Linked DNA regions of Homo sapiens: all the other regions are linked to region 3. The links come from fine-mapping of genetic effects on gene expression. A gene starts in region 3. Each other region holds a variant in brackets. All regions are shown on one strand. Distances are between the middles of the regions.

Region 1 (8,128 bases), 590 kb before region 3:
ATGGCAAGACTGTGGAGGAGGGCAGAGAACATTGAGCCCTGATTGGACAAGCTTGGGGCCCATCTTCCATGTCTCCATTCCCTTCCTTGGGGTGGGAAGCTTGCAGCTGGGACCATGATGCTGGTAACCCAGGTGGGCTTAGATTCCTAACGCAAGTCTTGGGCTGTGGCTGCCCGGCCAGGTACATACCGTGATGTTGCCGCTTATGTCTGCCTTGATGGGAGTAAACACTGGGGACCCAAGGCAATCTGGGGACAAAATGAGAAGACAGATTGAGATTCGCAGCAAGAGTGATTTTTCAGGGCCACCGCAGGCCATGGGGACATGGAAGGGTGGATTACATGGTGTGTCCCGGGGAGAGCTGAGTTGTTCTGGATGTTACTAAGGCAGCATGGGCTTGGGTGCAGCCCCCAGCTCTGTTCTCTCAGCTTCCTGTTTCCTATCTGGCAAATGAGGCTACAGCACCAACCACAGAGGCATGATGAAGATGGCTTGAAATAAACAATCCAATCCTAAGACACACATTTGATTCATCTCTAGAATCAGAATGGTATTTGTTTGTTCTTTGAGGTTTATCTTGAGACAGGGTCTCGCTCTGTCACTCAGGCTGGAGCACAGTGGTGTGATAATAGCTGACCACAGCCTCGACCTCCTGGGTTCAAGCCATCCTCCCACCTCAGCCTCTGGAGTAGCTGGGAATACAGGCACGCACCATCATACCCGGCTAATTAAAAAAAAATTTTTGGCCTGGTGCAGTGGCTCACGCCTGTAATCCCAGCACTTTGGGAGGCCGAGGCGGGTGGATCACTTGAAGTCAGGAGTTCAAGACCAGCCTGGTCAACATGGTGAAACCTTGTCTCTACTAATATACAAAAATTAGCTGGGCGTGGTGGCTTGCGCCTGTAATCCCAGCTACTCAGGAGGCTGAGGCAGGAAAATTGCTTGAACCCGGGAGGTGGAGGTTGTAGTGAGGGGAGATCACGCCACTACACTCCAGCCTGGGAAACAGAGCGAGACTCTGTCTCAAAAAATAATTTTTTTTTTGCACAGATCTTGATGATCAGGATCTTGTGTAGACCTAAGCTAATGTGTCTGTTTTTAACAAAAAAGATTTTTTTTAAAAAAAAGTACTTAACTTTTATAATAGAAAAAAGCTCATAGAATAAGGATATAAAGAATTTTTTTCTAGAGCTGTACAATGTGTTTTTTTTTAATTGTATAAAACATTTGATTTATTGGTCTTTGGGGGAATTTGATGCATCACCACTATATTAGAACTGAGCCATTAATTTTGTAGCTTCATCAATATTAACTACTTTATTTTCATGATGCTGCTGAGGAATCAGTTCTTTCTACAGAGGTTCAAGAGAAAGTCCTTTTAAGAAGTGTGCAAATCTCGTATATTTATTAGATTGGTGCAAAAGTAATTGCAGTTTTTGAATACAAAAGCTTTATCTACTCTGTTGACTTTTTCATCATTCATAACGTTTAACTTTTTTTTCCCCGAGACTTTTTGCTCCCCTTGCCCAAGCTGGAGTGCAATGGTGCAATCTCAGCTCACCGCAACCTCCGCCTCCCAGGTTCAAGCGATTCTCCTGCCTCAGCCTCCCGAGTAGCTGAGATTACAGGCACACGCCACCATGCCCAGCTAATTTTGTATTTTTAGTAGAGATGGGGTTTCACCATGTTGGTCAGCCTGGTCTCAAACTCCCAACCTCAGGTGATCCGCCCGCCTCAGCCTCCCAAAGTGCTGGGATTACAGGCGTGAGCCACTGTGCCCAGCCTCGTTTATCTTCTTAAGACTAGTGGTAACTGGTTTTGCTTTGTTGGTAGCCTTAAAGTGTTTTCAGCTGGCTATATGAAATACACTCCTGGACTCCTGCCCTCTTAATTTGTTCTCGCCATTGTCTTCAATAGTAGCATGCACCTATGTGTGTTTTTAAAGACAGGGTCCTTTGGCAACTGAAGAAAGATAAATAAAAATAAATAAATGCATAAAATAAAGGCAGGGTCTTGTTCTGGCACTCAAGCTGGAGTACAGTGGCAAGATCACAGCTCACTGCAGGCTTCAACTCCTGGACTCAAGCGATCCTCCCGCCTCAGCCTCCCAAAGTGCTGGGATTAGAGGGATACACCATCACACCCAGTAGAATGTTCTTAAATGGAGGCGTTTTCCTTTCTTGGTGGGTTATAATATGTCGGAGCATCATATAATAGGTAACACCTTGGAGATGATAAAATGTAGACCTGGAAACTGCCTGGCAGTGCCTAGGACTGCTGGGATCTGCTGAAATGTGAGCAGCCTGCTGCCTGCCTCTCCTCCTCTCCCTCTTTTGTCACCCCCATGGCAGGCTGTCACAGGACATCTTGCCCCTTACATGCAGGAAGTATGCAGGTTCTTTACTGAGCAGGCTAGATGTGGACTTTACCTTTGAGCCTGAAGACAGATTACCGGGCTTCCATGACACCTTTTCATTGTCCTTGTTGCGGTCCAGAAAAGTGAGCTCACTAAGCCTGCTACAGAGCCCAGGGGACAAAGACCCCAGAGCAGGCTAGAGGTGGGTGCCAATCCCACGGGAGTGAAAGGCCAATACCCAGGAGGCCAGACAGGGACCTCAGTGTGGGCACCAAGTGACCGCATGAGGGCAGAAGGCTAGGGGTGGAACTTCCTTAAGCCAAATTCCACCCAGGGTGACCCTGCACACCTGGCCAGCCATCTGGAACATTCTAATTGCAGCTATGAAAAGAGGTGCATGAGAGAAACAGCATTAAACATTTAAGGAAACAGCCCATAGCCCAATGGAAAGAAGGTGGGCTAGGGATTCAGCCAGACAGGGTGAGAATCCTGCACGACCACTCCCCAGCCAAGCAAGTCTCCTCGCCGCTGTGTGCCTCAGTTTCCTCTTGTGTCAAATGGGGCAATAGTAGTACTTATTTCATATGCTTCTTTAAGAAATTAAAAATAAGGCACCGAGGCCAGGCGCAGTAGCTCACGCCTGTAATCCCAGCACTTTGGGAGGCCAAGGCGGGCGGATCACAAGGTCAGGAGTTTGAGACCAGCCTGGCCAACATGGTGAAACCTTATCTCTACTAAAAATACAAAAATTAGCCGGGCGTGGTAGCAGGTGCCTGTAGTTCCAGCTACCCAGGAGGCTGAGACAGGAAAATCGCCTGAACCTGGGAGGCAGAGGTTGCAATGAGCCGAGATTGTGCCACTGCACTCCAGCCTGGCGACAGAGCAAGACTCCACCTCAAAAAAAAATAAGGCACCAAACACATGTAGCAGAGTGCCCGGTGAGTGGTGAACACTCAGTACCTGAACTTCAATCATTTTTATGACCTCATATCATTACTAGGGTCATGTGCTGTGACCCAGCAAATGACATCATCGTGGAAGCCACAGGATTCCCCAGAACCTCCATCGAGTGGGACTCATCCTTGACCTGTGCCCCTGCTGCTTTCTCTGTGCTCCCCTGTGAGGCCCCGCTAGGGCTGGGGCTGCCACCTTGACCTGCTGCAAGCTCCGGGCATGCTGTCGTCATGCTAGGCCACGAGCAGTCTCCTCTCGGCAACTGAGCCTCTTTCCAACGTCTGCAGAGGCAAATCTCCCAGCAAGGGGCCATGCTGGAGCCTTCCCTAGGGTGGTCACGTCAGAGGCTGCTCAGAGGTGCTGCGCCAGGGGTGCGGGCAAAGAATCCAGGGTGCTCTGGTCTCCCAGACAGGCCTGCCAAGCATCAATGGGGTGACGACTCCATGCCACCCTTTAACCTCACCTGATGGATCACTGACCTCCGCTGCGTGTAGAGGCCAGCCTGGGGAGGTCATGCCACTTGTTAGCCCTGGAAGGTATTCTCTTCCAGCACTGCTACTGCTGCCTCTCTGAAAGGACCGTGCATTCTCAACTTACATAATAACGCCGGAGCCAAGATCCTCTTTCCTCTGCCAGTGACTACAGTGCTGCCAGGGGGTGCAAATTCCAACCCTCACAGGGGGCCAGGCAGGTGCCATGGATGGGCTACATGGGGACTGGCAAAACCCATGCAGACGTATGGCTGTTCCTCAGCTCCAGCTGACGGCTTTACATCCTCATCTTCCCAAAATGTATAATGAGCTGGACGTGGTGGCATGTAACTGTAGTCCCAGCTACTCAGGAGGCAGAGGTG[G/A]GAGGATCGTTCAAGCCCAGGAGTTCAAGGCTGCAATGAGCTATGATTGTGTCACTGCACTCCAGCCTGCGCAACAGAGTGAGACTCCATCTCTAAAAAAAAATTAAAATGTGGGCCAGGCGCAGTGGCTCACGCCTATAATCCCAGCACTTTGGAAGGCCGAGGCGGGTGGATCACCTGAGGTCAGGAGTTCAAGACCAGCCTGACCAACTTGGTGAAACCCCATCTCTAATAAAAATACAAAAATTAGCCAGGTGTGGTGGTGCATGTCTGTAATCCCAGCTACTGGGGAGGCTGAGCCAGGAGAATCACTTGAACCCAGGAGGCAGAGGTTGCAGTGAGCCGAGACTGCGCCACTGCACTCCAGCCTGGGCAACAAGAGTGAAATTCCATCTCAAAAAAATAAATAAAAAATAAAAATGCATAATGTCCAAAGGCTTACATTAGACTGATGGATGGATGGACAGAGATATGGATAGATAGGCACAGTAAAATATTAATGGTAACATCTAGATGATAGGTGTATGAGTACTATTTGCTGTAAAATTCTTTCAGCTTCGCCACATGTTTGAATTTTCTCATAGAAAATACTGAAAAAAGTAATGTCAGGTTTTTTTTCTGCTCATAAAATCCTATTTCTTTTTCTACTTTTTCTTTCAAGTCTGTTTTACTGTTACAGTGATCATAGTCACATGTGTTACACCTTTGTTTTTTAAACCAACAATCTTGCCACCAGACTTGAGCTCTGAAGAGGGCAGGGACAAGGTTCCCTGCTATGCCCCCAGCACCCAGCAGATGCCTGACCCCAGTTGGTACTTGTATGACATCTGTGGAATGAATGAATGAGTGAATGAATGGACTGTGGGAAACGTGGAATCTGTCAGCGTATTTCCCTGCCAGGCTCTCCATCTCTGTACCCTCCTATGGTTCAGACTGACCCAACACACTGGTTTTAAACACCTATCCAACCCAGATGACAGAGGATATGTGAAGGGACTTTGGGCCTCAGTTCCCCTGTTTATAAAACGGATATCCTTCTAGGATGTTCTTCTGCAGGGCTGCTGTGAGAGAGAGGTGTCACACGTGCAAAGTGAGGGCTCAAAGCACTGACCACGATTGTTTTTACTGCCACTGGCTGGTTTTCAACCAAAGCCTTCCAGTGAAGAAGAGATGACGGCAGGGCCTGATGACAGATCACCATCGACCATGGGTGGCTTATTAGCTTTTCTTAATGACTCCGGTCATTCAACATGCATTTCAGAGATGCAGAAAAATGTTATGCAGCATCCTTGTGCAGTTCTGAGCAGCCCTGCCCTGGTGGCAGGGAGAAAGGCTTTTTGTTTTGTGTTCTCCTAACCATGAGCTACGAGGGTCACGAGGCCACCATGGTCAGCAGAAGCTGGGCCCCAACAGCAGCTGTTATTGTGTGTGGGGCCACCACACAGGGCCAGAGCTCCCGCTCAACAGTAGGGGAGGAATGTGGGGCCTCAAATGCACTTCTGGGGCTGGGAGCCTAGCAGAAGAGAGGGGAGGCGAGGCAGGGGCTGGGAACAAGACCCCAGACTACTTCCATGCTCTACCCACAGGGAGCCACCAGCAGGAAAGGCAGCTCTGTATGCATCTCTGTGTTACATAAACAAGCACGCTGAAGTGGGTTTGGAAGCATCTGGAGGTGGGCTGCCTGCAATTAGCAGTGGCGTCAACCTGGGCAGTGGCACTGAAGCAGTGGCATCCACAGTCCTGGGTTTGAATCTCAGCTCTGGTGTGAGTTTGGCCAAGTGACTTAACCACTCCAGGTTCAGGCCCTTCGGTTTCTACAGCCCAGAGGTGCTATGCAAACAGGAAGTGCTCTGTATATGGTTGGGCTGAAGCCTGTTTCAACATCACCCACCCAAGGCTCTGGGCTTATGTTTGCCTTTGGTGCAGTCCAAGGACATCAAGTCACAGAAAAGCCAAATGACTTGCCCAGGTTACACTCCAGGGAGTGCCAGGAACTCAGACACAATTCCAGAGCCAAAGCTGCTTCCACTACACCCTTAACCTTTCTGTCTAGAATGTTACCATTCTTTGAACTCAAAGAATGTTTCTTTGAGGTCCTGTGAACTCAGAGAAAATAGGAAACCAGAAGACGATTTTAATTCCCAAGCATGTGGTGGCTTTTCTAATAGTTTATTTTATTTATTTACTTATTTTATTTTATTTTATTTTTTGAGGCAGAGTCTCACTCCGTTGCCCAGGCTGGAGTGCAGTGGCGCAATCTAGGCTCACTGCAACCTCCACCTCCCGGGTTCAAGTGATTCTCCTGCCTCAGCTCCCCAGAAGCTGGGATTACAGGCGTGTGCCACCGCACCCAGCCTCTAAGAGTTTAAATTCAAGCCTGTGCCTGCTCTGAATACAGCATGACATGTTTCTACCAGGCTCTCAAGCCTTCCCTTTCCTACAGAATGCAGCCTTAACCCCAAATTACCCTTCTTGTTTGACCAGTTTTGCAGTTACTCCAAACTTGTTTTTTTCAATTGTTGTCAGCAAACAGCCTCTTTGAAATGCCACCCAGAACCTGTCTGCCTGGAGGGAGGGAAGGGACTTGGAGGGTTTTCTAGTTCATGACCTTCAGGGAGAAAGGAAGCTGTCTTTTAAACATTTTTTATTTATTCTTCTTCTTCTTATTTTTTAATAGAGACAGGGTCAGGCCGAGCATGGTGGCTCACGCCTGTAATCCCAACACTTTGGGAGGCCGAGGCGGGCGGATCACCTGAGATCCGGAGTTCAAGACCAGCCTGACCAACATGGTGAAACCCCCATCTGTACTAAAAATACAAAAATTAGCTGGGCATAATGGTGCACATCTGTAATCCCAGCTACTTGGGAGGGTGAGGCAAGAGAATCACTTGAACCTGGGAGGCGGAGGTTACAGTGAGTTGAGATTGCGCGTGAGATTCTGTTTGAAAAAAAAAAAAAATAGAGACGGGGTCTTACTATTTTGCCCAGGCCAGTCTCCAACTCCTGGGCTCAAGTGATCTGCCAGCCTTGGCCCCCTCAAAGTGCTGGGATTACAGGCGTGAGCCGCCATGCCTGGCCTGAAGCTGTCTTTAAAAAAAGAAAAATCAGATGTGGTCCCACCATCTTCTTTCACAGACCCAACTAGAGTGAGCAGATTCCAAATACAGTAAAGCCTTGGTTATCTGGAACAGCTGGCAAACGGCCCCTTCTGTTTAATGGAGAAGGCTTTTTCCAATGCACGCTACTCAACTCAGAAGGCACAAGGAAAGAAACCAATAAATCTAATTATAAAAAACAGAAACCTCCTATATGGGGGAGACGAGAAATCCCACCACCAACCAAAGCCAAACAACTAGGGGGGCAGAGAGTAGAGAGTCTGTGTAACAAGGATAACAGAAAAAAGGCTAATATCCCTAATATGTAAACAGCTCTTACAAATCAGTAAGAATAAAACAACAGCCCTACAGAACAATGGGCAATTCACAATAGAAATGAAAAGATGCTTAATCTCAATAATAACAAAAAAAAAGTGAAATATTTTCCATCTACCATTTTTTAAAAAAAGAGTCTTGCTATATTGCGCAGGCTGGAGTGCAGTGGCCATTCACAGGTGCAATCCCTCTACTGATTAGCATGGGAATTTTGACCTGCTGTTTCTGACCTGGGCCAGTTCACACCTCTTTAAGCAACCTGGTGGTCCTCTTTGCCAGGAGGTCACCATATTGATGCCAAACTTAGTGCAGACACCCAATCAGTGTAGCACACTACAGCCAAGAACTCTTGGGCTCAAGTGATCTTCCTGCCTCAGCTTCCTGAGTACCTGGGACTACAGGTGTGCACCACTGTGCCTGGCTCTCAAATATGAATATACCATCAGCATTCTAGTTCAGCCATCCTGGATGGAACTCATCAAAATGTAACACAAATGTCACTGCTTTCATAGTGGAAGCCATTCGTAGCTTTCT
Region 2 (8,128 bases), 100 kb after region 3:
AGCCTCCCAAAGTGCTGGGATTACAGGCGTGAGCCACTGCGCCCAGCGGTTAGCCTATAGTTTCTCTATCACACTCTGCTTAGTAGGAAGAGCCTCAGAAAAAAGCTGGTCCGATAAATGATTTTCTTGGTTTTGTTTTTAACTATCTAGGGGGCTTCTTTAGAGGAAAACACATAAGATACCCACTTACCGAGCAAAGGGACTTTATTTTGCAGCAACTCACAGTAGCTTGTGGTGAGAATTCCAATGGGATTACTAGGTACGAACCGTCCTTCTTTTACTAAACGTTCACACGTCCGCATTAAAGTCCCTGAGAATTGAGATGGATCAACTCCATAGTCTCTCCAGCCTCCTACACCATCTGCAACCCCTGAAGAAAAAACAAAAATTACAGTAAAAGAACAATCTTACCAACTTCTCAGGAATTCTTACCTCTGTTTTCTCCTAACAGTTAATTTCACTACATGCTACTACATACATTCACTCCAAAATTCAGAATAAAAAGCACTCACGTTTAATGTATTCTACACTAACACTCCTAAGCCACATTCACTACTTAGAATTTGGCCTTTCATATATTGATGAATAAACTTTTGAGCTACCACAGGGTGGCATTGCCTACCAGCCAAGAGTTCAATTTCAGCAGGATTAGCATCTGTGTATAGACATATTTGTGTCATTAATACTTTGTCTTTTATAAGAATGAAAATTGATTTTTAAGCAAAGTGCTGATGCTAGTGACGATACAATTCAGTCAGAGCTGGAGATCACAAAGAACATCAAAAGCGGCAACCTTTTAACTCCAAACATTGGTCAATCGCTGGGAAATAAAGAACAAAACTGAGAACATATCCCATCCCCTCTCCTTCTACCCTGTAGAGGGCGGTACTGTACAATACAACAGCCATTCCTTACATGGTTACTGAGCACCCGAAATGAGGGAAGCCCAACTTGAGACATGCTCTAAGTATAAAACATACAGTGGGCCGGGCGCGGTGGCTCACGCCTGTAATCCCAGCACTCTGGGAGGCCGAGGCGGGCGGATCACGAGGTCAGGAGATCGAGACTGTCCTGGCTAACTCAGTGAAACCCCGTCTCTACTAAAAATACAAAAAATTAGCCAGGCGTGGTGGCAGGCGCCTGTAGTCCCAGCTACTTGGGAGGCTGAGGGAGGAGATTGGTGTGAACCCGCGAGGCAGAGCTTGCAGTGAGCCAAGATCGTGCCACTTCACTCCAGCCTGGGCAATGGGGCGAGACTCCGTCTCAAAAAAACAAACAAACAAACAAAACCACACACAGTGGATTTTGAAAACTTAGTATGAAAAAAAGTAAAATCTCTTTGGGAGGCTGAGGCAGGTAGATCACCTGAGGTCAGGAGATCGAGACCAGCCTGACCAACATGGTGAAACCCCGTTTCTACTAAAAATACAAAAAATTAGATGGGTGTGGTGGCAGGCAACTGAAATCCCAGCTACTCAGGAGGCTGAGGCTGGAGAATTGCTTGAACCTGGGAAGTGGAGGTTGCGGTGAGCCGAGATCGCGCCATTGCATCCCACCCTGGGCAACAAGAGTGAAACTCCATCGCTCTGTCACCAGGCTGGAGCAGTGGCGTGATCTCGGCTCACCGCAACCTCTCCGCCTCCTGGGTTCAAGGGATTCTCCTGCCTCAGCCTCCCGAGTAGCTGAGACTACAGGTGCGTGCCATCACGCCTGGCTTTTTTGTATTTTTAGTAGAGAAGGGGTTCACCGTGTTAGCCAGGATGGTCTCATCTCCTGACCTCATGATCTGCCAGCCTCGGCCTCCCAAAGTTCTGGGATTACAGGCATGAGCCACTGCGCCCGGCCCCCAAAATCTCTAATTTTTATATTCATTACTTACATACTGAAATTGTATTTTGGGCCAGGCATGGTGGCTCATGCCAATAATCCCAGCACGTTGGGAGGCCAAGGTGGGAGAATCACTTGGGCTCAGGAGTTCAAGACCTGCTTGGACAACACAGTGAGTCCCTGACTCTACTAAAAATAAAAAAATTAGCCAGGCATAGTGGTGTGCACCTGTAGTCCCAGCTACTCAGGAGGCTGAGGCGGGAGGACTGCTTGAGCCCCAGTGGTTGGGGCTACCGTGAGCCATGATTACGCCACTGCACTCCAGCGTGGGTGGATCAGCAAGACCTGGTCTCAAAAAATGAAACAGAAAAAGAATATTTTAGATATAATGCACCAAAGAGAATGCATTATCAAGACTGAGCTCACCTTTCTTTATTTACCTATTTTTTTTGAGACAGAGTCTCGCTCTGTCGCCCAGGCTGCTGGAGTACAGTGGCGTGATCTCAGCTCATGGCAACCTCTGCCTCCCAGGTTCAAGTGATTCTCCTGCTTCAGCCTCCCTAGCTGGGACTACAGGTGCTCGACACCACACCTGACTTGCATTTTTAGTAGAGACAGGGTTTTGCCATGTTGGCCAGGCTGGTCTCAAACTCCTGACTTCAAGTGATCTGCCCATCTCGGCCTCCCAAGGTGCTGGGATTATAAGCATCGGCCACTGCATCCGGCCAAATTTCACCTTTTAAAAAATTAACTATTATTATTTTTAGAGACAGTGGCTTGTTCTGTTGTCCAGGTTGGAGTGTAGTGTTACAATCACAGCTCATTGCAGTCTTGAACTCCCAGGCTTAAGTGATCCTCCTACCTCAGCCTCCTGAGTAGCAAGGACTACGGGGTCATGCCACCACACCCAGCTAGTTTTTGTTTGTCTGGCAATACAGAGTCAGGATCTCACTGTATTGCCCAGGCTTATTTTGAACTCCTGGGCTCAAGTGATCCTCCTGCCTCAGCCTCCCAAAATGCTTGGATTACAGGCGTGAGCCACCATGCCTGGCCTCTTTTTATTTTTAGTTAATATGAATATTAGGAAATTTAAAATTACATATGTGGCTCACATTATATTTCTACTGGATAGTACTAGTATAGAGATTTTCGTAGGCCCAAAGAGTTGCTGATGAGTTCAGAGTCTGCTTAGAGCTCCTTTATCAAGAGGAAATTAGTGTTTATGAAAGTCAATAAAATATCAAAGCCATCATACAATCTTCTACTCAAACTCTTGCAAAACACCAAGCTATTCTTTCCAACACTAAAACCAATTTCTATCTACTAAATTCAAAGACACTGAGAGAAAATGTCAAAAATATACATTATTAAGGCTTTAAATGGCCTTTCTGGAAGGATCCATAAGAAATATTAGCAATGGTTGCTTTAGAAATAAGGAACTGAAAACGATCCATGAACAAAATGGGAATTTTTGCCTTTTACTTCATACCATTCTGTATTAATTTTATTTTTATCATGAGCATGTATCATATGATTTTTTAAAACAGGGATTTTTTAATTTTTAAAACTTTCTGAGCATGAAACATCCTTCCCATACACACATTTATTTTTTGTACATTCAACTTTAAGAATGTATTTGGTACAAAAGTAGCAGAGTGCCTATATATACATCCCTGAAAAATTGGCTTAACATGAATTGGACATGTGAAACTATTTCTCTGGGGATGGCAGTTAACAAAAAGAAAGGGAACACATCGTGAAAAAGTAAGAGGAAACAGAATTGGAAGACATAAAGAAGGCAACAAATAGTGTATCACCACTGGGACAGCAACTTTCCCCACCTATGTGACCAACCAATAAACCAAATTTCATGACAGGGCAATTCCAAATTAGCTAATTAAAGTAATAAAAACTCTGGGATTCGTTTCAAAATATTTAAGGGGTTGAAGGGGGAGTGACAGAAGCACAGATGAAAGAAGACTGGCCATGAATGGATCGTTGTTGAAGCTGAATAAGAAGAACACCCATCTCTCTACTTTGATATATATTTGAAATTTTCCATAACACAACATTTAAATAATAACAATGATAACAAGTTTAAAAAGAAAAAAGACCCTTTTGCCTGCTGTGTGGAGAGCAAGAGCGGAAGGAGTTTAAGTAAGAGATCCATTTCATAGTCCACTCGCAATCTGCTGGCAGTGTGGTTAGAGGCGTGCAGACATTTGGTATCCATGAAACAGAACACGTGGATTGAGGGGTGAGGGAAAGAGAAGCAACCGGGCTAACTAGGGATCTATCTTACAAGGAACAGCACATTTCATTGTTTTTCAAGGAGTTGTGAAGAGGTTTGGGAAACTTATATTAAAAGAATTTAAGATCATTTCAATAGGAACTTCTTTGGAGAAACTCTTATTTTACTAGGAGTAAGATTTCACCATAATTTAAAACACAACAATTTATGTTAAAACACAGAATATAATTATAAGCCTTGCAACACTATCTGATGAATCATTCATTCTTTTCAAACCACTGCCTGCTTCAGGGAAGAATTTCTTCTTAA[G/A]TAGTCTCTGGTACAACTACAATTAACTTTAAATACAAATTGGTTTCATCTGCAAATGCTCTTCACAAGAAAACCATTAAAATCTAAGATAACGTTTAGAGTTGATCCTCGATCCTCGCACTCACTAAATAATCTGTCAGCAGGTTGAGTCTGACCTGACACAGCCCTTCAACATTAATCAGATTTCTCCCAGAATACAGCACAACCTTTTGGGCACCTGTTTGCTTTTTTACACGGGCAAAGGATGCCAAGCAAAACACCACTGACCAAATCTCTTTAGGGGAGAGAGAAATTCAAAAAGCATATAAACTCTTCAATAAAGCTGCAGGGAAAAAAGCCTTAATACAGTGCATATATATAACTAAATTATATAAGGGGAAGAGTTGTATTTGGGATGAGAATCAGACTAAAACTAGAATAACCTACTACACGTACATATGAAACCTAATTTTATTCATATTAGGTGGTTGTTTCTACACAGAAATTAATATGTCCTCTATTGCATAAGCAAAAGCTTCAGACTGCAAAGAGCAAGAATACCCTTTAAACAGTGGAACTGATCCAGATATAAAGGGAAATTTCATTCAGAATACATGTCAAAGGTAAAGAAAACTGTTAAAGGAGAAATTGCTTAAGATCCCAAAGATGTCAGGAACACAACTATCAAACAGCAAAGGATAAGAATAAGAATACCCTAAGAGCAAATGGAGGCCACACGTGGACCACCACATTGTGCATGCTGCGCTAGGAAATAAGACGGCTGAGAAAGCCGGTCTCTGAGAAGCTCCCCTGCTAGTGGGGTGCTAGACTTCTCACAGAGAAACCAGACAAACGGCTCCCATAAACACTGCTGCAGGAGGGTCAACAGCCAGTGGTTAGTGCTTACGGACACCACGAGAATGCAGCGCCTCAAGAACAGTGCCAGCCTGCTCTGAAAGTGGCATTCGGATAGGCCCTGGCAGGGGTCAGCCAGATTTCCACGGCAGGGAAGGATAACAAGAGGAAAAGAAAGGCAGACAACTAGATGCTGGGGCTTGGGTGAGCAGGGAGAAGCTGAAAAATGAAGGGCAGTAGCGAAAGTTGTAGAAAATCAAGAATGCCAGTTCAAGAACTCTAAAGTTCTTTATGCTACTGACCTGTGCTGTCTAACATGGGAGCCACTAGCCACATGTGGCTATTGAGTCTAAAATCTCACTTGTTTGGATTGAGAAGTGCTTGCTATGAAGTGTAAAATACATTCTGGATTCCAAAAACTTAGTACCAACAAAAGAAAAACTAAAATGACTTAGTAGTAGTTTTGTTTTCTTTTAAGAGATGGGGTCTCACTCTAGCCCAGGCTGGAGTAGTGGCCTGATCATAGCTCACTGCAGTCTTGAACTCCTGGGCTCAAGTATTCCTCCCACCTCAGCCTCCTTAGTAGCTGGGATTACAGACACACCCTGATACACCCCGCTACTTTTTTTTTTAAGTTTTTGTAGAAACAGGGTCTCACTATGTTGTCCAGGCTGGTCTCAAACTTCTGGGCTCAAGCAATCTCACACCTTGGCCTCCCAAAGTGCCGAGATTATGGGCATGAGCCACAGGATCTGGCCAAGTTTAACACATATATTAGGCATACTCAAGAGGTTAACAACGATAATAAAACAGAATAATTATAACAATATACTATAATAAATGTTGTGTGAATGTGGTCTCTGTCTGTATTATTGTTAGGTAATGTGGGTATATTAGTCCATTCTCATGCTGCTATGAAGAAATACCTGAGACTAGGTAATTTATAAAAGACGGAGGTTTAATTGAGTCACAGTTCTGCATGGCTGGGGAGGCCTCAGGAAACTTACAATCATGGCAGAAGGGGAAGCAAACACATCCTTCTTCACATGGCAGCAGGAGAGAGAAGTGCTGAGCAAAGGGGGAAAAGCCCCTTATAAAACCATCAGATCTTATGAAAACTTCACTATCACAATAGCAGCATGAGGGTTTATGGGGATTATTATGGGAACTACAATTCAAGATGAAATTTGAGTGGGGACAATGCCAAAACACATCAGTGGGTAATTGAAACCTCAAATAAGAGGGAACTACTGTTTCTGGATTTGGGGAATTAGAAAATATTGATTAGATTATTCTACAGTTGGCAAGGGTGTGTAAATGCCTTTAAAAGACATTTAATTCTGTCTTGGGTATGTCAAACTTCAGGTGCCAGCAGGGCATCTTTGTGGAAGTGTTGTGTATAAAGTGAGGAACTATGAGTTTGCGGCTGGCAAGGCAAGTTGGGGCCAGAAAATCTGAGAATTGATACCTTAGTGGTAGGGTATCCAGTTTGTCAGAATGATATAATCTCTATGGAGGTAGAGAGAAGTGAAGCTAAAAAGGAGGCTGAATTAATGACTAGAAGGGCCTTGAATGCCAAGATAAAGAGGTTGCACCGAATATAGAAGCTATTTCCTTTAATTCACTGTAATCATCTTATGTCTCCATTAATAACATTCTGTGAGCACACATCTAGCTTAAGTGTTTCCCTTGACCCAAAATCCAATTAAAATCACTATTAGATTAAGATAATGGTTACATATCAGAAATAGCTGAGCAAAAGATTGAGAAGAGACCATAGGGCACAGAAAAATCCTTTAGTGTTTTTGTTTGTTTTTGTTTTTTGAGACGGAGTCTCGCTCTGTCGCCCAGGCTGGAGTGCAGTGGTGCGATATTGGCTCACTGCAACCTCCGCTTCCCAGGTTCAAGTGATTCTCCCGCCTCAGCCCCCCAAGTAGCTACCACGCTCCGCTAATTTTTTGTATTTTTAGTAGAGACGGGGTTTCACCGTGTTGGCCAGGATGTTCTCAAACTCTTGACTTCATGATCCGCCCGCCTCGGCCTCCCAAAGTGCTGGGATTACAGGTGTGAACCACCGTGCCCAGGCTAGTTTTATCTTTTCAATGGAAATGTCAGTTTTATGAAGCAAAACGAGCAATTAGAAAATAGTTACAGTATTTATGTTTTTACAAAGTATTTTATTAAGTTTTCCATAGACTGATGCTTTTTCCCTTTTTCTTTTTTTAACAGCATCCTGCTCTGTCACCCAGGCTGGAGTGCAGTGGTGCAAACACAGCTCACTGCAACTTTGAACTCCTGGGCTCAAGGGATCCTCCCACTTCAGCCTCCAGAGTAGCTATGACTACAGGAATGCACCAACACACACAACTCATTTTTTTAAAAATTTTTTTTGTAGAGATGCGGTCTCATTATGTTGCCCAGGCTGGTCTCAAACTCCTGGGGTCAAGTGATCCTCCTGCCTCAGTCTCCCAAAGTGCTGGGATTACAAGCACAAATCACCATGCCTGGTTTCTACAGTTAAGAGTTAAAAAGGGAAGCAAAAAGAGTAATTCTGGGTGTCTGCCATCATTAAGTGTTTATAAGAAGAAAAAAATTTTTTTTTTTTTTTAAGAAATGGGGTCTCGGGCCCAGCGTGGTGGTTCACGCCTGTAATCCCAGCACTTTGGGAGGCCGAGGTGGGCAGATCACTTGAGGTCAGGATTTCAAGACCAGCCTGTCCAACATGGTGAAACCCCGTCTCTACTAAAAATACAAAAATTAGCTGGGTGTGGTGGTGCGTGCCTGTAATCCCAGCTTCTTGGGATGCTGAGGCAGGAGAATCACTTGAACCTGGGAGGTGGAGGTTGCAATGAGCCAAGATTGCATCACTGCACCCCAGCCTGGGCGACAGAGCAAGACTCAGCCTCA
Region 3 (8,128 bases):
AAGTGATCCTCCCATCTTGGCCTCCTAAAGTGTTGGGATTACAGGCATAAGCCACTGCACCCAGCCTAGAGTCCTGGCTTAAAACCTGGTTTTACCATTACTAGGCAACCTTGTCCAAATTAACTTCTCTGAGGCTCCGTTTCCTCTTCTGTAAAACAGGAATCATGGTACCTACTTCATAGGGTCGTTATGAGGATTAGATGGGATAATTTATAAAGTGTGTACCCCAGAGCTCAGGAGTCAAATGGTAATTATGGGATTCATAAAATATGCATTTGTGAGGCTGAGCGAGGTGGCTCATGTCTGTAATCCCAACACTTAGGGAGGGTGAGGCAGGAGGACTGCTTGAGCCCAGAAGTTTGAGATCAGCCTGGACAACATGGTGAGACTCTGTCTCTACTAAAAACACAAAAACTTAGCTGGGCATGGTGGCGTACACCTGTAGTCCCAGCTGCTCAGGAGGCTGAGGTGGGAGGATCACCTGAACCGAGTTTGTGTCACTGAACTGCAGCCTGAGAGACAGGGTCACACCCTGTCTCAAAAAAAAAAAAAATGTATTTGCAACTATGGCTTGCTCCTTTTCATCACAGGTATGCTTTATCTAAAGCAGCCTCCGCCTTCCCTCTCACCAACTGTCTTGTTACCCATCTAGCTTCTTTTTTTCCGGGGGGGGGGGGGGTGGTGGTACAGAGTCTCACTCTGTCACTAGACGAGTGCAGTGGCACGGTCTCGGCTCACTGCAACCTCCGCCTCCTGGGTTCAAGCGATTCTCCTGCCTCAGCCTCCCAAGTAGCTGGGATTACAGGCACGCACCACCACGCCTGGCTAATTTTTGTATTTTTAGTAGAGATGGGGTTTCACCATGTTGGCCAGGCTGGTCTTGAACTCCTGACCTCGTGATCCGCCCACCTAGGCCTCCCAAAGTGCTGGGATTACAGGCGTGAGCCACTGCGCCTGACCACCCATCTAGCTTCTTTATAGCATTTGTCACTACCTGACACTACCGTATGTATCTCCTTTATTATGTTTACACTTTTATTGTCTCGACTCCCGATTTGAATGTACATTCTTTAAGATTAGGGATTTGTTGAACTTATTTGCTGCTGTAAATACAGCCTGGCAGGCAGCAGGTGCTCGTTAACGTTTGTTAAAAATAATGTGTGAGCAGGCTGGGCGCGATGGCTCACGCTTATAATCCCAGCACTTTGGGAGACCGAGGGGGCGGATCACCTGAGGTCTGGAGTTCCAGACCAGCCTGGCCAACATGGTGAAACCCCGTCTCTACTAAAATGCAAAAAATTAGCTGGGCGTGGTGGCGCGCGCCTGTAATCTCAGCTACCCGGGAGGCTGAGGCACGAGAATTGCTTGAACCAGGGTGGTGGAAGTTGTAGTGAGCCGAGATCGCCTCACTGCACTCCAGCCTGGGCGACAGAACGAGACTCTCTCAAAAAACAAACAACAAAAAAAGTGTGAACAATCACATAATAACTGAACCACCTTTTCCCGAATCTGCAAAATGGAGACCATGACGGTGATAAATCTACCCCACAAACTGGCTGTCAGAAATTAAGTACAACCAGGCCGTCATAATTTTTTACTCCCACTCTGATGGCACACGAAAAAGGAAATCTTTGGAAGTCAGGCGCCGAACGAGTCTGTGAGGGCCCTAAACCCAGCTGGCTCCGGGATGGCCGCCGCTGCCGGGAAGTGGGTTCTGACAAATGACAAACAGCAGAGGGAGCCTGACCCCGGGGCGGAGGAGGAAGTGGGCCTGACAGAAAAAGGAGAAGCTAGACCCCTGGACTTGAAATATGAAAAATAAAAAGCGCAGCCCTTGGCTTCGCTCTCTAGTGAGGCTTTGGGAACCCTGCCGGAGTCGGAAGGAGTAGACGGAGAGAGAAAAGGGCCTCCTCACACACCCTGGACCCTTGGCCCACTCCTGCCGCGCCCCCGCCTCCCACGACTGGCACCCCCGGGCCGCCCCAATCCTTCAGCAACCGGTCCCCTCCCCTCGCCTCCCTCCTTCTCGGGCCCCAGCTTCCTCTCTGCCTTCCGCCGCCCGCTTCTCTCGGCACACACACGGTTTCTCTCTGCTCTTCGCAATCCCCGCTGTCTCCCCACACCGTGGATCGAACCCTCACCGGCATCTTGGCGGCGCCCGGGTTTCAACCCAGAGGAGCAGGATCCAGGTACAGCGGAGCGCTTCCGGTCTGGCAGCCTGGGCGAGGTAGGCGGAAGCGAAACGGAAGGGGCGGGTGCGGACGTGGAGCTTCCGGCCTTGCAGTTCCGCTTCTGGTTGCAGCGGCCGCGCGGATCTGAAGGAGGCGCCAGAGCACTAGGCAGGGGCCTTGAGTGGTGCAGCGTGAGGCAGCGCCCAGAATGGAGATGGGTCTTGAGGTTCCAGAATCTGAGATCAATCACCTCTTTTGTATTTTTTTCAAATGTCACCTTTTCAGGGCCGGGCATAGTGGCTCACGCCTGTAATCCCAGCACTTTGGGAGGTCGAGGCGGGTGGATCACCTGAGGTCAGGAGTTCGAGACCAGCCTGGATGGTGAAACCCCGTCTCTACTAAAAATACAAAAATTAGCTGGTCGTGGTAGCATCCCAGCTACTCGGGAGGCTGAGGCCGGAGAATCGCTTGAACCCAGGAGGCAGAGGTTGCAGTGAGCCAAGATCGCGCCGCTGCACTCCAGCCGGGATGACAGTGTGACTCTCTCAAAAAAAAAAAAAAAAAAAAAAAAAAAAAATCACCTTTCCTGTGAAGCATTCTCCGTTCATTCTATTTTCAGTTCACCCAACTCCAGCCCCATGCCTTATCCTTCTCTCCCGCTTTTTCCCTTAGTTCTTACGATTCTTGTATTTAGTTTACTCTTAGTGCTTGTGAATGCCAAAAAGGCAGCACTTCGTCCGTTTTGTCACCTGCGCCCGTAACAGTGACGGTATGTAGGAAACATCAATATTTGAGTGAATGAATGAACCCAATGCACTGCATCTAAAAATGGAGAAACTGAAGGGCACTGGACTCCAGGTTTGAATCGCAGCTCCAATACATACTAGCTCTGTAATTTTGAGCAAGTTAACTGGCCTGTGCTTCAGTTCCTCACCTGAAAATGGCAGTAACAGTATTTACCTCATAGTTTTGTGAGGATGAAATGAATTACATGTAAAATGCTTAGAACTTACATGCTTGGAGCATACTGAAAGCCCAGAGTTTTAACTTATTTATTACTAGAAAACTTCTTATGTTAAAAGTCAAGTTCATTGCTGCCTGAGAGCCATTTCTTCTGCCAGTTCCCAGCCTGAAATAGGACCCCATGTTCCCACATCTGATTTCACATTCAGCTGACTGGGCAAATAGCACCTTTTAGGCAAGGTCTTTTTTGACAAAGAGCCCAAAGTAGCCCCATAATCACTCTCCATTTCTTTTCTGCTTTTCTTTCCATCCTCTCTCTGAGGTTTCCTTCCTCATGGTCAGTCTCACAGGCCCAGCATGGCAGCCCCACGTGAGCAAGGCCCTGCCTGCACTGTGCATCCCTGTTCTATCCCCAGTGTCTGGCATCCACGGAACTTCAGTAAATTTGTGTAAATTTACTGAATTTCTGTCAGCCCTGCCTATGAGACAGTGAAATCCTCGAGGACTGGAATTGTCAGATTCATCTTTGAAACCCCAGTGTCCAGTGGGGAAGGCACTGGAATCGGGTCCTTCACTTTTTCTCCACAGGCACATACCATACTCTCTAGAAGCTAAACCAGGGAGGACCAAGGAAGAGGGCAACTGAAAATCTGCCTCTTCTTTCTTCCCCTCCCATGTGACAATAAGTTTCTAAGAATTAGCAACCCTGGGAGATCAGGCTGTTTCCACACTATCTATCCTCTAAGGGCCACAGGAAGGTCCCCAGGCAGCCCAGCACATCCCCATGTTGCCCACTCATCATGCTCCTCCCTGAGTGGACCATGGGGTAGACACCCGACCCTTCCCTCTAGCCTGGCCCCCAGGCATAAGCTACCACCGATACTTACAGGTCCTCACATTTTTTTTTTTTTTGAGATGGAGTCTCACTCTGTTGCCCAGGCTGGAGTGCAATGGTGCGATCCTGGCTCACTGCAACCTCCACCTTCTGGATTCAAGGGATTCTCCCACCTCAGCCTCTCAAGTAGCTGCGATTACAGGCACGCGCCACCACGCCCAGCTAATTTTTTGTATTTTTAGTAAAGACAGGCTTTCACCATGTTGGCCAGGTTGGTCTTGAACTCCTGACCTCAGGTGATCCACCTGCCTCGGCCTCCTAAAGTGCTGGCATTGTAGGTGTGAGCCACCACGCTTGGCCACATTTTGCTTAATTAAAATGAATCAAATTAGACACTGCAGTGTACTTGTTATCTAGGTCCAAGAATCATTAAAAACCTTTGTTTCTTTTATATATACACATACATATCTCAAAACATAGTTATTTTTACTTTTTAAGTTATATAAATAATATACATTTTCAATATAGGAAAATGGGAAGATACAGATAAGCAGTGGTCTTATATATATCCTTGCAGCTTTTTCCCTTCGGACATACATATTTTGTTACAGTAATTCCTGCATCTCAAAAATAATACAAAAAGTGAAAATAAGTTTAGACCAGCCTTAACCTTAGCTCAGGTGCTAATTTATATATAAATCTATGTGCATTCATTTCAATTTTGACTTACAAAATCTAAAGTGATGCTGTTATAATACTAAAAGATTCCACTTTAAACAGCAGCAGTTTCAGAATAATTAAAAATTTGATTCAGGCATGAGGCTGATAAAGAACGAAGTTTTACTTTTTTTCATTAAAATAAGTAGCTTTCTACTATTGCATCCTTTGAAGAGAAGAATGTTCTGCTGGTTTGGCCACAAGCTCTTTAGATGGTTACTTTTAGTAAACTCTTCATTCATCCTGGCATTCTTGAAAATATTCGTCAAACATAGAGGAAGACTCATCTTCACGTTCCTGACACAATGGAAACACAAAATAGAAAATATATTCATTTCCCCTCAGTCAGAACTAGTATGTGTTTATATATTTTTCAGGTAATACCCTATGTGGAACTAATTACCCAGCACCAGCTCCAGGTGCTGCTTATAGGTAACTGTTAATAGTAAGAAAAGGCATGATTGACAGATTTTTTTCCAGTTATGTAGTAAATTAATGTGCTTCTATCCCAGAAGCATTTCTCATTTGAATTTACATTCAAGACGATTCTTGGCTAATTTCCTGTGATAGTGCTTTACTTCGCTGGTAGTCTAGTGGTCAGGAAAATAAAAAATAAAAAAATAAAAAAATGCTTAGCTGATACTATCATTAGTCTTCTCAATGACATACGTGAGGGCAGCCCAATTTCACCTCCTCTTTACACATACACCCAAGCTCTAAGTACACACAGGCTTCATCATACTGCCTCAACAAAAGTAGAGTAAAAGTGATACTGCTTGTGGAGTACAGTGTTAATTTCAGAGATCACCCAGAAAAGCCCAGTTAACTGCCATCAATAAGACAAAAAACTAATTTAAGGAGTCGCCTGGATTATGCAAGAGTCCAGTGAGTGCTGGCAAATATTTTTATCAAAAGCTAACAAACACCCCAAACCAGAAATTACCTTTGGTTCTTTAAATTCTAGGTCTTCTCCATATTGAATGGCAAAATCAATATGCTGCAATACAATGTTCATGCTTTCTTCATCTGACTGATCGTAAGGTAAAAATCGAACCATGCTGTAGTCATCAATCTACAAGTTGTGGATTTCAAGAAAAGTTCATTCTGAAGTTGTGCAAAATACATAATTTTCAACTTATATTTGAGTTTTATAACCATTTGTACTTCTGAATAAAAACACTGATGTGTTTACAGGAAGAGGAGGAGAAGGGATAGCTAGACACAGAGAGTAAATCATTGATTTTTCTGACTTCTGATCTGCTAGAACACTTGTTAGCTTATTACTTTAACTAGACACTGTTTCACGGCTATTTATCTGAATTCAACAACCACTGGAAATTTCACAAGAGAACAAACAGTCCTGAACTCTCCAAATGGCTTGAAATAATAAGATGTTAGTTTATTTATTGGCCACTACCAATAACTACTTCTAAATTAAACTGCTGACTGACCAGCCCACAGCCCTTTTCCCTCCACTTTGCAGAAAATAGGGTTGAACTGTGCTTTTTATATGGCAAATGACTGGACACAGGCAAACACTTGACCAGGTGTTTAGGAAAAAAACCCAAAAAACTTCATCTTTTTTTTTCTTTTTTTTTTTTTTTGGGGAGACAGAGTTTCGCTCTTGTTGCTCAACCTCCACCTCCAGGTTCAAGCAATTCTCCTGCCTCAGCCTCCTGAGTAGCTGGGATTACAGGTGTGCCCTACCATGCCCGGCTAATTTTGTATTTTTAGTACAGACGGGGTTTCACCATGTTGGTCAGCCTGGTCTTGAACTCCTGACCTCAAGTGATCCACCTGCCTTGGCCTCCCAAAGTGCTGGGATTATAGGCGTGAGCCACTGCACACCTGGCGCCCTTTTTGTTTTTGTTTTTTTTTGAGATAGGGTTTCTCTGCTGCCTAGGCTAGAGCACAGTGACATGATCTGATCATGGCTCACTACAGCCTTGACCTCCCAGGCTCAAGGGATCCTCCCACCTCAGCCTCCACAGTAGCTGAGACTACAGGCGTGCAGCACCATGCCTGGCTTTTTTTTTTTTGAGACAGAGTCTTGCTGTTGTTGGACCGGGCTGGAGTGCAATGACAAGATCTCGGCTCACTGCAACCTCCACCTCCTGGGTTCCAGCAACTCTCCTGCCTCAGCCTCCCGAATAGCTGGGATTATAGGCATGCACCACCACGCCTGGCTAATTTTTGTATTTTTTAGTAGAGATGGGGTTTCACCATGTTGGCCAGGCTGGTCTCAAACTCCTGACCTCAGGTGATCCACCCACCTCGGCCTCCCAAAGAGCTGGGATTACAGGCGTAAGTCACCGCGCCTGGCCTAATTTTTTTTTGTTTTTGAGACAAAGTCTTACTCTGTCGCCCAGGCTGGACTGCAGTGGCATGATCTCAACTCACTGCAACCTCCGCCTCCCGAGTTCAAGTGATTCTCCTGTCTCAGGCTCCCGAGTACTAGGATTACAGGCGCACACCACCATGCCCAGCTAATTTTTTTTTGTATTTTTAGTAGAGACAGGGTTTCACCATGTTGGCCAGGCTTGGTCTTGAACTCCTGATCTCAAATGATCAGCCTGCCTTGGCCTCCCAAAGTGCTAGGATTACAGGTGTGAGCCACTGCACCTGGCCTAATTTAAAAAATTTTTTTAGAGATAGGGTGTCACTATGTTGCCCAGGCTGGTCTTGAACTCCTGGACTCAATCTTGCTGCCTTGGCCTGCCAAAGTGCTAGGGTTACAGGCATTAGCCACTGCACCTGGCCAAAAAATCCAAACTTTAAAAGCTTACCAGTCCACATATAGCTTTAGTCAGTTTCTTGAATTTTTTGCTTCTTAAGTCACTTGTAGAATCTTCTAATAAAGAATACATGTCTGGATCTAAAAATCTTTAAAAGACAGAAAGACTGATGAATTCAGGAGACTAGGTTTATAAACCAGCCAAACTTCCCATCTAAATAAAACAGAAGGTTCATCTCTGCAACTGAGATCTGATAATAATGGAAGAACAGTGAACTCACTTCTCAATTTCCTTTTTTGCTTTTTTACTCAGCAGATCCATTTTTGTCATGATGTTGACTTGCGGAATTTCTAGAGAGATCATGGCACTCAGGGCTGCCAAGATGCCAGAAATAAACTGAAGGAGGAAACAGAAAAGGGAAGATGAACTGACTGTTGCCAACAGTTACCTGGTCTGCATAAAGAGTCTTCTATTCCTCACTGGAACAGAACTGGCCTAAATAAAAGAAATGCAAGCTGGACGTGGTGGCTCATGCCTGTAATCCCAACACTTGGGGAGGCTGAGGCGGGCAGATCACCTCAGGTCAGGAGTTCAAGACCAGCCTGGCCAACGTGGTGAAACCTTGTCTCTACTAAAAATACAAAATTAGCCAGGCATGGTGGCATGTGCCTGTAATCCCAGCTACTCAAGAGTCTGAGGCAGGAGAA
Region 4 (8,128 bases), 30 kb after region 3:
TACATTTTTCAGATGGCTTTCTAATGAAGAGCTTCCCTTTCTCTACCATTTTTCAATTTATATATTTATTATATAATTGTCAACACATGGATTCTTATACCATTGAATAGGTTAAATACTTTACTTTAAATCTGTTATTTATTTTGATGCTCAAATTATCCCAGATTTGGCCAGTGGGAGCCCTTTAAAGATGGCTCTTGTTCTCTGTCTCCATTATCCTTTGAAAACTTTTATCTTTTAGCACAAAACGTTGTACTGTCCCTGTTCTACCCTTGATGTCTGCCATTTCTCCAAAGAGCCTGTGGTAGGCAGCATGGTCCCCAAAGATGTTCACACTCTAATCTCTCTAACCTGTAAATATGTTATGTTACATGGCAGGAGCAATTTTGCAGGTAAAATTAAGTTATAACCCTCAAAAGAGATGTTATTTTGAATTTTCTGGGTGGGCCCAGCCTAGCCCAAGGCAGAGGAGTTTCTCTGGCTGAAGTCAGACAGATGTGGGGAAGAGAAGCAGTTAGATGTGAAAGGAGAGATCTTAACACCCCATTGTTGGCTTGAAGATGAAGAGAGCCACATGTCAAGGAAATAGGGACTTTGGTTTTGTAAGGAACTGAATTCTGCCAACAACCTGAATGAACCACTACAGGCTCCAGGCACCCCAGTCCAGCCCAGGCACCCCGATGCCTTGATTTTGGCCTTGTGAGATTCTAAGCAGAGAACCCAGTGGATTCATGTTATACTCAGTCTTTTGAGCTATAGAACTATGAGTCAATACGTGAGTGTTGTTTTAAGCCGCTAAAGTTGTGTTGTTATGGCAGCAAAATGAAACTAACATAGAGCCCCTTTTTAAAAAATTGTATATATTTAAGGCCGGGCGCGGTGGCTCACGTCTGTAATCCCAGCACTTTGGGAGGCCGAGGCGGGTGGATCACGAGGTTAAGAGATCGAGACCATCCTGGCTAACACGGTGAAACCCCCGTCTCTACTAAAAATACAAAAAATTAGCCGGGCGTCGTGGCTGGCGCCTGTAGTCCCAGCTACTCGGGAGGCTGAGGCAGGAGAATGGCGTGAACCTGGGAGGCGGAGCTTGCAGTGAGCCTGGGCAACAGAGCGAGACTCTGTCTCAAAAAAAAAAAAAAATTATATATTTAAAGTAGAGAAGAGTACGTAGAAACCAAGATCTGGGTGCTAGGTGTGCTTATTTATAATATACTTTCATTGCTTCTAGACTTTCTCCGAGGACAGTGCTGGGAAAGAAATGTGTGTGCATTTACCTGTGAGCACATACATACCCATACATATCTATTTCAATATTTCTACTAACTCCAAATTCCAATCCAACAAACAGGGTTTATTCTGTGCTTTCCTCTTTCCATATTAATAGGTAACTCGTCTCCAAAAGTGTGAGACCTGCTTATTAACTACAATATATTATTTGCTTCGTCCTAAGATGTATAAAAAAGTAGTTTCTAAAGTGCTAACACATGCTTCTGAAAAAAAAAAAAAAGAAGCCTAGTAGGCTGGGCGCAGTGGCTCACGCCTGTAATTCCAGCACTTTGGAAGGCTGAGGTAGGTGGATCACGAGGTCAGGAGATTGAGACCATTCTGGCCAACATGATGAAACCCCGTCTCTACTAAAAATACAAAAAATTAGCTGGGCATGGTGGCGCGTGTCTGTAATCCCAGCTACTTGGGAGACTGAGGCAGGAGAATCACTTGAACCAGGGAGTTGGAGGTTGCAGTGAGCAGAGATCGCGCCACTGCACTCCAGCCTGGCGACAGAGCAAGGCTCCATCTAAAAAAAAACCCAAAAAAAACAAAAAACAAAACAACAAAAAAAAGCCTAGTAGTTAATTAGAGATCAGTATTTGCTTAGAGTTGTTTTTGTTTGAGGGCATATAGTCCAAGCAGTATATTCAAAAGTTCTTGGGTTGGTTAACTATTTATTTGTGGTAAAATATACATAATATAAAATTTACTATTTTAATCTTTTTTTTTTTCTTTGAGATGGAGTTTCGCTCTTGTTGCCCAGGCTGGAGTGCAATGGCTCGATCTCGGCTCACTGCAACCGCTGCCTCCTGAGTTCAAGCGATTCTCCTGCCTCAGCCTCCTGAGTAGCTGGGATTACAGGTGCACCCCCACCACGCCTAGCTAATTTTTTTTTTTTTTTTTTTTTTTTTTTTGAGATGGAGTCTCACTCTGTTGCCCAGTCCGGAGTGCAGTGGCACGATCTTGGCTCACTGCAAGCTCCACCTCCCGGGTTCACGCCATTCTCCTGCCTCAGCCTCCTGAGTAGCTGGGACTACAGGCGCCTGCCACCATGCTTGGCTAATTTTTTTATATTTTTCTAGAGACGGGGTTTCACCATGTTAGCCAGGATGGTCTCGATCTCCTGACCTCGTGATCCGCCCGCCTCGGCCTCCCAAAGTGCTGGGATTAAAGGTGTGAGCCACCACGCCCAGCCTAAGGGTTTCACCATGTAGGCCAGGCTGGTCTCAAACTCCTGGACTCAAGTGATCTGCCCGCCTCAGCCTCCCAAAGTGCTGGGATGTATAGGCATGAGCCAATGCACCTGGCCCATTTTAATCATTTTTAAGTGTACATTTCAGTGGCATTAAGTATATTCACACTGTTGTGCAACCACTACCACCATCCATTTCCAGAAAGTTTTCATCTTCCCAAACTAAAACTCCGTACCTATAAAACACTAACTCTCAGGTGGGTGCAGTGGCTCGTGTGTGTAATCCCAGCACTTTGGGAGGCTAGGGCTGGAGGATCGCTGGAGCCCAGGAGTTTGAGACCAGCCTGGGCAACATAAAATTAACTTTAGTTTTTTTTGTCTCTAAAAGAAAATTTAAAAACAAAATAAAAAACCACTAATTCCCTATATACCTCCTTTCCCCTGACCTCTTGCAACCTCCATTCTTTCACTCCGTATATATTTGATTTTCCTAGGTATCTCATAAAAGTTAAATCATACAATATTTGTCCTTTGTGACTGGCTTATTTCACTTAGCATGTCTTCAGGGTTCATCCATATTGTACCATGTGTCTGAATTCTCTTATTTTTTTAAAGCTAAATAATATTCCATTGTTTGTATATACCACATTTTGTTTATATATTCACCTGTTGATGGATACTTGGGTTTCTTCCACTTTTTGGCTATTATGAAGTAATGCTGCTATGAGCATGGATAAATAATCTGTTTGAGTCCCTGCTTTCAGTTCTTTTGGAATTGCTGGATCAGAAGTGGAATTATTAGATTATATGGCAATTCTATGTTTAAATGTTCGAGGCACTGCCATACTATTTTTCTTTTTCTTTTGAGTCAGTCTCACTCTGTCACCCAGGCTGGAGTGCAGTTGCAGTAACTCAGCTCACTGCAACCTCTGCCTGCCAGGTTCAAGTGATTCTTCTGCCTCAGCCTCCCAAGTAGCTGGGATTACAGGGGTGTGACACCATGCCTGGCTAAGTATTTTGTGTGTGTGGTTTTTTTTTTTTTTTAGTAGAGACGGGTTTCACCATGTTGCCCAGGCTTGGTCTCGACTCCCAACCTCAGGTGATCTGCCTGCCTCAGCCTCCCAAGGTACTGGGGTTATACAGGCATGAGCCACCATGCCCAGCCTATTTATTTTTAAGTGCTTCATTTTCTGTAAAGAAATGTTATCAAGCTATTGAGAAATTAAGTGTTGGTCCAAAATATAATATGCATCTCAGAAATATTGTTTATTAAGGACACAATTCATATTCTTATATAAATAGCCTCTGTTTACAACTTGAAAAAGGATTTCCAAAACAAAAAACTTTTAAAAATCTTAAATTGGCATTCATATTATTACAGATTATAAGTTATGTTTCAAGGGTCATAATACAATTTCCAAATGATTTTCCATTTCTTGGTCAACTAGTTAGTCCTTACCTGTAGTATCCAACTTGCCAAAATCTTGAAGAAATAACTAAATTTAAAGTTTAATACAAAACTGAAATAGCCTGTTATTAATAATATTGAAACAAAAATGTGCTTATTGAATTCAACTAACTATATACTT[T/TC]TTTTTTTTTTGAGACAGAGTCTCACTCTGTCACCCAGGCTGGAGTGCAGTGTTGCGATCTCGGCTCACTGCAACCTCCACCTCCTGGGTTCAAGAGATTCTCCTGCCTCAGCCTCCTGAGTAGCTGGGACTACAGGTGTACGCCACCACACCTGGCTAACTTTTATATATTTTTAGTAGAGACAGGGTTTTGCCATGTTGGCCAGGCTGGTCTCCTGACCTCAAGTGATCTGCCCGCCTCAGCCTCCCAAAGTGCTGGGATTACAGGCATGGGCCACCACACCCGGACGCAAACTTTTAACTTAAAATGTGTCTTTCCAGCTTTATTTGTAATAGACAAAAAGTGGAAACTACCCAAATGTCTATCAACAGGTACATAATCAAATAACAGTGTAAACATATATACAATAGAAGATAACCCAACAGGCCGGGCACGGTGGCTCACGCCTGTAATCCCAGCACTTTGGGAGGCTGAGGCGGTCAGATCACAAGCTCAGGAGATCGAGACCATCCTGGCTAACATGGTGAAACCCCGTCTCTACTAAAAATACAAAAAATTAGCCGGGCGCAGTGGCGGGCGCCTGTAGTCCCAGCTACTCGGGAGGCTGAGGCAGGAGAATGGCATGAACCTGGGAGGCGGAGCTTGCAGTGAGCCGAAATGGCGCCACTGCAATCCAGTCTGGGCAACAGAGCAAGACTCCATCTCAAAAAAAAAAAAAAAGATAACCCAATGATAAAAATAAATGAACTATTTGTTACATGTGACATGAGTGGATCTCAAAATCGTTAGGTTGAGTGAAAAACCAGACAAAAAATGAGTACTGTGTATTCCCATTTATATCAAACTCAAGAAAATGCAAATGAATCTATGGTAATAGAAAGCACATCAGTGGTTGCCTGGAGAAGGGAGTGTGCAGGGAAGAGGGATGTATTATTATAAAAAGAGACATTTCGGGGCCAGGCGCGGTGGCTCATGCCTGCAACCCCAGCACTTTGGGAGGCCAAGGCGGGCAGATCACGAGGTCAGGAGATCAAGACCATACTGGCTAACACAGTGAAACGCCGTCTCTACTAAAAATACAAAAACTAGCTGGGCGTGGTGGCGGGCACCTGTAGTCCCAGCTACTCAGGAGGCTGAGGCAGGAGAATGGCGTGAACCCGGGAGGTGGAGCTTGCAGCTTGCAATGAGCCGAGATGGTGCCACTGCACTCCAGCCTGGGCGACAGAGCGAGACTCCTTCTCAAAAAAAAAAAAAGAGGCATTTCGTGATTTAATTGTCAGAGACTATTTTTCCCAAAACTGCTAGTGAAGCTTATACCCTAAATTACTAGTCTCAGTATGTCTGAAACTGAAAACCAGTTCCCATTCTTCTGGGAATATGTTTCAACTTTTATTTTTTACTAAAAGGTTATTCTTTTATGCTGTCCACAACTGTTTTTAAAACAATGAAATACGCTGGGCATGGTGGCTCATGCCTGTAATCCCAGCACTTTGGGAGGCCAACGCAGGCGGATCACCTGAGGTCAGGTGTTTGGGACCAGCCTAGCCATCATGGTAAAACCCCATCTCTACTAAAAATACAAAAATTAGCTGGTAGTGCATGCTTGCAATCCCAGCTACTTGGGGTGCTGAGGCAGGAGAATCGCTTGAACCTGGGAGGTGGAGGTTGCAGTGAGCTGAGATTGTGCCAGCACTCTAGCCTGGGCAATAGAGTGAGACCCCATCTCAAAAACAAACAAAAATCAACAACAAAAAATGAAATAACTGAAACTATGTAAAAATAAATTTTGATAAATTTCTGCAGTCTTTCATGTTAATACTACATCTCCAAAGGGATAAAATTTGTGTTACTCTAGTCTAATACAGAATAGAATTTTAAGGCCGAGTGCAGTGGCTCACACCTATAATCCCAGCTACTTGAGAGGCAGAGGCGGGAGAATCTCTTGAGCCCAGGAGTTTGAGGCTGCAGTGAGCTATGATTATGCCACTGCACTCCAGCCTGGGCGTCAGAGATCCCATCTCTTAAAAAAAGATTTAAAAAACTATATACTAAAGTTAGGCCGGGCGCCGTGGCTCACGCCTGTAATCCCAGCACTTTGGGAGGCTGAGGCGGAGGATCATGAGGTCAGGAGATCGAGACCATCCTGGCTAACACGGTGAAACCCCATCTCTACTAAAAATACAAAAAATTAGCCGGGCATGGTGGCAGGTGCCTGTAGTCCCAGCTACTCGGGAGACTGAGACAGAAGAATGGCATGAACTGGGGAGGCGGAGCTTGCAGTGAGCTGAGATCGCGCTACTGCACTCCAGCCTGGGGGACACAGAGAGACTCCGTCTCAAAAAAAAAAAAAAAAAAAAAAAAAAAAACTATATAGTAAAGTTAAATGATAATAAAATATTACTGTAAATCATTAAAGCACAAATCCTGCGTGTATATTTTCTCTTTGGTATGTTTCTGACATGATGTTACTGTCAACACTTTGCATCTTAGCTGAGTTCAAAATAATGTATTATATATAAATAAAATATTTATTTACAAGTATCTTTGATGTTGTTTGTGTGCTCTAAAACCAAATGGCATACCATACAGTCTCTTCAAATTTAAGTCTGAGTGAAAATATTCAGTACTACTCCAGGATAATCACTGACACATGTAAATATCTAGATCTTTTTTTTTTTTTTAAGACGGAGTCTCACTCTTTCGCCCAGGCTGGACTGCAGTGGCGCTATCCTGGCTCACTGCAAGCTCCGCCTCCCGGGTTCACGCCATTCTCCTAAATTTTTTGTATTTTTAGTAGAGACAGGGTTTCACCGTGTTAGCCAGGATGGTCTCGATCTCCTGACCTCGTGATCCACCCACCTCGGCCTCCCAAAGTGCTGGGATTACAGGCGTGAGCCACCACACCCGGCCTAAATATCTAGATCTTAATAATTCAGTTTGTTGAACTGATCTTTGCCTCTGAAATTCACATGATGTCTTTGCCTACAGATAGAATCAAAGATGGATACAAAGTGAACTCACACATAGCTAAGCTGCAAGAGTTATGGAAAACTCCCCAAAATCAAACAATCCACCTCTCTAAATCAATGATGGAGGCGTCCTTTTTCAAGGTATGCTAACAGGGACATATTTAAATACCAATACTCTTTGTATTCAGAGCCGAACTTTTTACTGAAGATCAGCTGCTTAGAGGGTGAGATACTGCAGATGACAAGGCATATGCAGTATAATTGTCTAGGAGTCAATAAATATCTTTGAGTAAACTCATGAATGAATGTAAAGATTATACATTCTTTATCATAAGAGTTATTTCATGGTTTTATGATACTTCATATCTAATGTATCTTTACTGAGGGGAAGCTTAATGCCCCAACCACAGAGATGCTCAAGAAAAGTTCCATCTTTTCTTGAAAATAGAAACCCAACTTCACACATATTTTACTCAAGGACTACAAAATTAAGAAGAAAGCAGGTAAAGAAAATGGCAGTAATTAGCTTGCAAGTAGGATTTAAAAAAAGAAAAATAAATAAAAGAAAATGGCAATAAGGATTTTACAATGGTTACCTGTATCCCATTAACGATCGTAACTGCTAAAAGTATCTCTAGAGCAATGTGAATTAGGGTAAATTTTTCTAACATTTTGCATTTTCTTTGAACTTACCATGTATTCAGTAAAGTAAATCTTGTATATATAGTGGAATCATACATCTTAAGTGAACATTAACTTCTAAATCAGCAAGTGCAATGAAAATCTCAAGTCAAAATTACTTAGAGACTAACATACTATCCCTCAGAATGTCCAACACAGTCAGTTATTCTTCTGGTGCTGGAAAAGAATGTTTCTTCAGTTGAGACTAAGTAGAGTAATTGGATTGATTTTAGGTACCATGTTATACCTCAAAAATCATTTTGAGAAGGCAAGATGCCCACACTGAGAGGCGCACAGCAAGTAACACTTGACAGAACAGCAGATTCGCTCTTTCCTTGTTCATCTAGAGCAATGGGTTCTCCGACTTCAAAGGGCATCTGAATCACCCGAGTGGAATGGCAAGCAGAGCCACTTGCACTGTTTAATT

Direction of the effects. Alleles are on the strand shown, and positions count from the first base shown. SD is a standard deviation of normalised expression in the study named. Not every link is listed here.
As copies of TC replace T in region 4, the expression in monocytes of the gene that starts at base 2,224 in region 3 goes up (moderate effect, 0.47 SD a copy in BLUEPRINT).

What was found. PIP is the estimated chance that this variant, and not a neighbour inherited with it, causes the effect. A credible set is the group of variants that fine-mapping cannot tell apart.
Region 1: its variant is the best candidate, but not a certain one, in a credible set for the expression of ARPC3 in whole blood (INTERVAL, PIP 0.74).
Region 2: its variant is the best candidate, but not a certain one, in a credible set for the expression of ARPC3 in monocytes (TOPMed, PIP 0.62).
Region 4: its variant is the best candidate, but not a certain one, in a credible set for the expression of ARPC3 in monocytes (BLUEPRINT, PIP 0.71).

Annotation. Positions count from the first base shown.
Region 1 is chr12:109,858,494-109,866,621 of GRCh38, forward strand. It overlaps GLTP (glycolipid transfer protein), which reads right to left. Exons shown (of 5, transcript NM_016433.4): 2 at 190-248. It also overlaps the pseudogene RN7SL441P. Among named protein-coding and RNA genes, the nearest start is that of GLTP, 18 kb to the right of the region's middle. The variant G/A (reference allele first, on the strand shown) is at 4,164.
Region 2 is chr12:110,551,599-110,559,726 of GRCh38, forward strand. It overlaps PPTC7 (protein phosphatase targeting COQ7), which reads right to left. Exons shown (of 6, transcript NM_139283.2): 2 at 191-370. Among named protein-coding and RNA genes, the nearest start is that of PPTC7, 28 kb to the right of the region's middle. The variant G/A (reference allele first, on the strand shown) is at 4,388.
Region 3 is chr12:110,448,114-110,456,241 of GRCh38, forward strand. It overlaps ARPC3 (actin related protein 2/3 complex subunit 3), which reads right to left and starts at 2,224. Exons shown (of 7, transcript NM_001278556.2): 1 at 2,142-2,224. The coding sequence starts at 2,147. It overlaps GPN3 (GPN-loop GTPase 3), which reads right to left. Exons shown (of 8, transcript NM_016301.4): 5 at 7,702-7,817; 6 at 7,473-7,569; 7 at 5,630-5,758; 8 at 4,373-4,983. The coding sequence ends at 4,921. RefSeq lists enhancers at 780-1,632, 2,338-2,437.
Region 4 is chr12:110,478,039-110,486,166 of GRCh38, forward strand. It overlaps FAM216A (family with sequence similarity 216 member A), which reads left to right. Exons shown (of 7, transcript NM_013300.3): 3 at 7,040-7,161. The region is part of intron 1 of LOC124903016 (a long non-coding RNA gene); the gene reads right to left. Among named protein-coding and RNA genes, the nearest start is that of FAM216A, 13 kb to the left of the region's middle. The variant T/TC (reference allele first, on the strand shown) is at 4,051.